2 separate regions of the Homo sapiens genome follow, and region 1 is linked to region 2. Evidence: fine-mapped expression QTL. A gene starts in region 2. The other region holds a variant in brackets. All regions are shown on one strand. Distances are between the middles of the regions.

The links.
Region 1: its variant is fine-mapped to the expression of GALNTL5 in prefrontal cortex (GTEx, PIP 0.90).

What each region holds. Positions count from the first base shown.
Region 1 is chr7:151,997,752-152,000,670 of GRCh38, reverse strand. All of the region lies in intron 5 of GALNTL5 (polypeptide N-acetylgalactosaminyltransferase like 5), which reads right to left. Among named protein-coding and RNA genes, the nearest start is that of GALNT11, 26 kb to the left of the region's middle. The variant A/T (reference allele first, on the strand shown) is at 1,569.
Region 2 is chr7:151,955,079-151,957,997 of GRCh38, reverse strand. It overlaps GALNTL5 (polypeptide N-acetylgalactosaminyltransferase like 5), which reads right to left and starts at 1,552. Exons shown (of 9, transcript NM_145292.4): 1 at 1,389-1,552. It overlaps LOC105375571 (a long non-coding RNA gene), which reads left to right and starts at 1,653. Exons shown (of 2, transcript XR_928179.2): 1 at 1,653-1,747; 2 at 2,293-2,799.

The DNA of each region.
Region 1 (2,919 bases), 43 kb before region 2:
TAGTCATCAGAAAAACGTTAATAAAAATCACAGTGAGGTATCCCTTTACATCCACTAGGACGGCAAGAATGAAAAAGACAGACAATAGCAAGTGTTGGGGAGGTGGTGGAGAAATTGAAACACTTGTCCAGTGCTGTTGGGAATGATGGGTGGGAGGGGAGGAGTACAGAGAACAGGAAAGTTCTCTCTTGCCTGAAGGGCACTCTCTGGGCTGAGTTCTCTGAGGGTGTGTGGCTGGCAATAGCAACTTTGAGGACCTCCCTTCTCATCCCTGGTGGTCTCTGGTCAGCAGTTCCCACAAACTGGGCAAGTGCATTCTATTCTGGTGACTCAATCTGTCTTCTCAGCTCCTTAAGATCCTGTGTTCTGTCTCCAGCTTCTCTGCTGAGGCCTGTCCATTCTTCTAGATAGTCCTACCGGACACCATCTAAGATGATCCCTATAGCTCTCTCTCCAACACTGCCAAAGCAAACTCTGCCATAAATACAGCTACTAATCTAAAAGCAAGTGTCCTTTGTTCTACAGCTGGTCACAGTCTTTTTATCCTTTTGATTTTCGGCAGAAAACTAACATTAGTTCACTTCTCCTCAATCCCAATATATTTCCAATTTTATTGTATTGATGTCTGAGAATGTGCTGAATTCATATCAAGTCTCTCTCACCAGGCTTTGAGCAGTAGCTTTCTCCAAAAATCTCCTTTAATCTCTAACAACATGACTCAATCTGGCTGAGCCATCTCATTGGTTCTCAGATCTCTATTTTGAAATATCTTTATCGTGGTCAGTCTAACAACTCACTTTGGAATATTACAGCTATGATTTTCATGCCTCAACCAAAACTGAGCTAACAAGAGTCCCATTTTTAACACATATGTTTTCATACTATTGGCAGCACACACACAGCTTTATACTTCACATTTTTCACCTAAAATAGCTTCTATAATATTACGTAACATTATTAGCATTTTAAAATCATGTCTGCTCATTTGATAGGTGAAAAATAACATCTGGTTCTCCTAAGAAGATGTACGAATGGCTAGCAAGCACACAAACAGATGCGAAACATCATGTCATTAGGAAAACACAAATCAAAACCAACGTGAAGAACCACTTCACTTCCACTAGGATGACGAGAACTTAAAAAATGAAAAATAAGTTTTGGCAGGGATATGGAGAAATTTGAACTCTTACACATTGCTGGTGGGAGTGTAAATGGTGCAGCCACTGAAGAAAAGAGCTTGGCAGCTCCTCAAAAAATTAAACCTGGAATTACCATAAGACCCAGCAATTCTATTCCTAGGAACATGCCCAAAAGAATTCAAACAAATGTATATATGTGCATGGTCACAGCAGTACTGTTGACAACAGCCAAAAGAGGGAAACAGCCCAAATGCCCATCAATGGATGAATGGAGAAACAAACTGTGGTGTATCACAGAATGGAATATTATTCAACCATAAAAAAGGAAGCACTGACACATCCACCATGTGGATGAACCTCAAAAATATACTAAGTGAAAGAAGCCCGACACAAAAAGTTACATATTGTATGATTCCGTTGATATGAAAT[A/T]TCTAGAAAGAGACAGAACACAGATAGGTGGTTGCCAGAGACTGGAGGGAAGGAAGCTGCTTAATGGCTAAAAGACTTTCTTTTCAGGTAATGAAAATGTTTTGGAGTTAGAGGTCATGGCTGTACAACATTGTGAAGGTGCGAAATGCTACTTAATTGTTCATTTTTAAATGATCAGTTTTATGTTAATCGTGCCTCAATTTTAAAAAATCTGGTTAATTTTTTTTTAATCGCTGGTGAGGTTGAATTTTCCACATGATTAGCCATTTGTAAATGAAATTGTCGTGTACTTTGCCTATCGGAGTAGTTTTGTTTTTTGTTTTTTTTTTTTTAGATAGAGTCTCGCTCTGTCACCCAGGCTGGAGTGCAGTAGCATGATCTCAGCTCACTGCAACATTCACCTCCTGGCTTCAAGCAATTGTCCTGCTTCAGCCTCCCAAGTAGCTGGGATTACAGGCACCTGCCAACATGTCCAGCTAATTTTTGTATTTTTAGTGGAGATGGGGTTTCACCGTGTTGGCCAGGCTGGTCTCAAACTTCTGACTTCAAATGATCTACCTGCCTCAGCCTTCCAAAGTGCTGGGATTATGGGCGTGAGCCACCATGCCCAGCTTGGAGTTGTATTTTTAATGGATTTTAAATGTACATTTTACATACTAAAAATATTAACTTTTAGTCCTGTTACATTTCCCCAGCCTACTGTTATTTAATTTTATTATTTTTTATTTGCAGCAATTTTACATTTTTTTGTTAAAAAAATAGACTTTTTTTTAGCACCTTTTCCATTGGTTTTAAGCTTTGAAATTTCTTTATTCATAAAACAGGCAAGTATTAATCTATGTTTTTATATTTTTAAATTATCCCTTAAGAAGTTTGATGATGATGATGTTTTTACAGAGACAGTCTCACTCTGTTGCCCAGGCTGGAGTGGAGTGGTGCTATTATAGCTCACTATAACCTCCAACTCCTGGACTCAAGCGATCCTCTTGCCTCAGCCTCCTGAGTAGCTTAGGACTACAGGTGTGCACCAACACACTCGCCTACTTTTTTTAATAAAAATTTTTGTAGAGATGGTGTCTCACTGTGTTGTCAGGCTGGTCTTAGAACTCCTGGCCTCAAGCAATCCTCTTGCCTTGGCCTCCTAAAGCGCTAGGATTACAAGCATGAGCCACCACACCTGGCTATGGTTTGATTTTTTAAAATAAAATTAACATTAATCCAGTTATAATTTATTTGGGTTATGGTATGAAATAAAGACCTAAAATTTTCCCAAATGGCTAATTGTTTAAGTGGCATTAAACAACAACTGCAACAAAAACATTTTAAAAGTCTTTTTTCCCATACAGATTTG
Region 2 (2,919 bases):
ATTTTCTTATTTTACTAATATGAGTTCTTATATTATGTTTTCTCTGTGACAAGCACCTCACCTCCCAACCCACCCCCTATACTCCCACAAAACACAGAAAACCCCTCCTATCAAGAGATCGATGTAAGAGGTGTGTGATTGGCCTTTGGACTTTGTGTCTTCAGAAGAAAACCATGTTCAGTTATTTTCTTCACTAAAAGATGCAGAATTCAATGCTAGAAAAGCACAGAATTTGTAAAATATATTTCAACGAGGATTCATATGTACAGCAAATAAAATTTTAAGTGCATTAAAGAGACTTAGCAGATGATCAAAAGAATCCTGTAGAGAAAAGAATGCAGCTAATAGTCACCAACATGCCCCCACCAACACGCCAAAACCCTAGCCTAAATCTGCATTTACAGTCATTGAGTTTCTTTCTTTTTTTTTTTCTTTTCTTTTTTTTTTTTGAGACAGGGTCTCGCTCTGCTGCCCAGGTTGGGGTGCAGTGGCCCAATTACAGCTCACTGCAGCCTTGACTTCCCAGGCTCAAATGATCCTCCTCTTTCAGCCTCCCAAGTAGCTGGTACTACAGGCTGGTGAGTGCCACCACGCCTGTTTTTTTTTTTTTTTTTTAAATAGAGATGAGGTCTTGCTATGTTGCCCAGGCTGGTCTCAAACTCCTGAGCTCAAGTGATCCTTCTGCCTTGGCCCCCAAAAGTGCTGGGATTACAGGCATGAGCTACCATGCCTGGCCAAGTTTTTAAAAAAATACGAGTCTATTGAATCAGGAAAACATGACCATGCTTTAGATAATATCACAACTAATTCTTCTGTCAATAATCAACACTTTTTTTCCTTTTTTTTTTTTTTTTTCTCGAGACAGAGTCTCACTCTTTCATCCAAGCTGATCTTGAACTCCTGGACTCACATGGTCCTGCCACCTTAGCCTCCCAGGAGCTGGAATTACAGATGCCAGCTGCCGTGCCCAGTTTATAATCAGCATTTTTAACCCCTAGCTTTCCTAGGACCATCTTAATACTGATCTCCATATAAGATCTAGGACTTTATGACACTGCTAAGGGCCTTTATTTCCCTATTTTTTTCAAATAAGTAATACAGTCACTGTATAAACATTACCAGCATAAAGACACATGTAATGAAAAGTTTCCCTATTTTTCATGAACTAAAGCCATTACAATGCCCAGTCCACGTTTAGGGTGGTGTAACCAGCTAGGAGGCTACTCCTTCTTTAAAAAATAAAATAAATCTTCTTAAACCTAATCCCCAGAGCTAGCACCTCCTTCAAGACGCAGTGATTTGATGTACTGCTTCCGCTGATTCAAAGTGAAAGACGTTTCCCCCCATCTTTGTTCCCACTTCTAGCACATGGGGCTCACTTCACCTACCCTTGAGATAATTGCATTGGCTGCTTTGTAACTGATGAATTTTCCAAGCAGAGTCACAGCTGAATGAGGCAGGGGTCTGTGCCGAATGAACTGAGAGATGTAAAATTTTTTTTAGCTAGCAGGCTTTATGGTGGCTGGGTTCCAAGCAGATACCTGGTTGTGCTGGGTTGCGGGGCCACACAGTAGTACTCAAAGGGCAGTACAGTCCCCCTCACAAAGCCTGATGACATCACACAGGGCGTCACAGCCCCACAGGGGCCCCTGCCTGTAAGCTCCAACCAGCAGGTGGAATCCAGGAGTTCCAAGGTCCTAAGGGTCCTTACCCCTCAGCTGAGAAAATAGGGAAAGCCTCATATTAGGTGAGGCTAGAATCCAGGGTGACTCTCTTCTCTAGGCAAGGCCTAATTTTTAGCTTTTTATATTTATTTATTTATTTATTTATTTATTTATTTATTTATTTATTTATTTATTTTTGAGATGGAGTCTCGCTCTGTCCCCCAGGATGGAGTGCAGTGGTGCAATCTCTGCAATCTCTGCGATCTCCGCTCACTGCAAGCTCCGCCTCCCGGGTTCACGCCATTCTCCTGTCTCAGCCTCCGGAGTAGCTGGGACTACAGGCGCCCACCACCACGCCCGGCTAATTTTTTGTATTTTTAATAGAGATGGGGTTTCACCGTGTTAGCCAGGATGGTCTCCATCTCCGGACCTCGTGATCGGCCCGACTCGGCCTCCCAAAGTGCTGGGATTACAGGCGTGAGCCACCGCGCCCGGCTAATTTTTAGCATTTTTGAAATAAACTTAAGAAAAAGAACAAGCTTTCAGAAAACATGAAGAAACTTAAAGATGAGCCAAAGGGTTATTTGATTGCCTTTTAATTCTTTACTCTACGTTACTCAACATTTAGATGTCAGTACACAAGTTCAGCCAAATGCTTGTGAAATTTCTTCTGAACGCATCCCAGGAGACTTGACCCTCCCCGCTTCAGGATGCTGACTCTGTTTTGCCTGAAACCAGACAAGCTCTGCTTCAGGGTCTGTGAGTGGAAGGGGGTGGGTGGGAACCTCTCGCAACCTCTCCTGGGACAGACACAATGGGCAATCGTGACCTCCTGGGGTAGATACTGAAACTGTGACAAGTGATAACAAAACTGGCAGAAATCAGTTGGACCCAATATGGCCAACTGGAGTTTCTGCAGAAAGAGCTTGCTGATATCACAGCCTGAATTTCCACGCATGTTTCGTATTAACTGCCCCGGAATTTGATTTGCACACAGCACCCATGAGGAAGCATGAAGAGATAACTGCGCATGTCTGAGGACTTGCCAGACCTCCTCTTTCCTTCCACCGATCTCCTGCTAATCCCGGAACCCACCCTCTAACCCTTTTCTAATAAAATTATTTCCTTAAAGGCAGCACAGCGAGACAGATTTGAGCTGGACTCCTGTCTCCGTGTTGGTCAATTTGCAATGAAAAGCTTTTCTTTTCTCTGAAACCCAGTGTCTTAGTATTTATTGGCTTCTAGCGCACGGGTC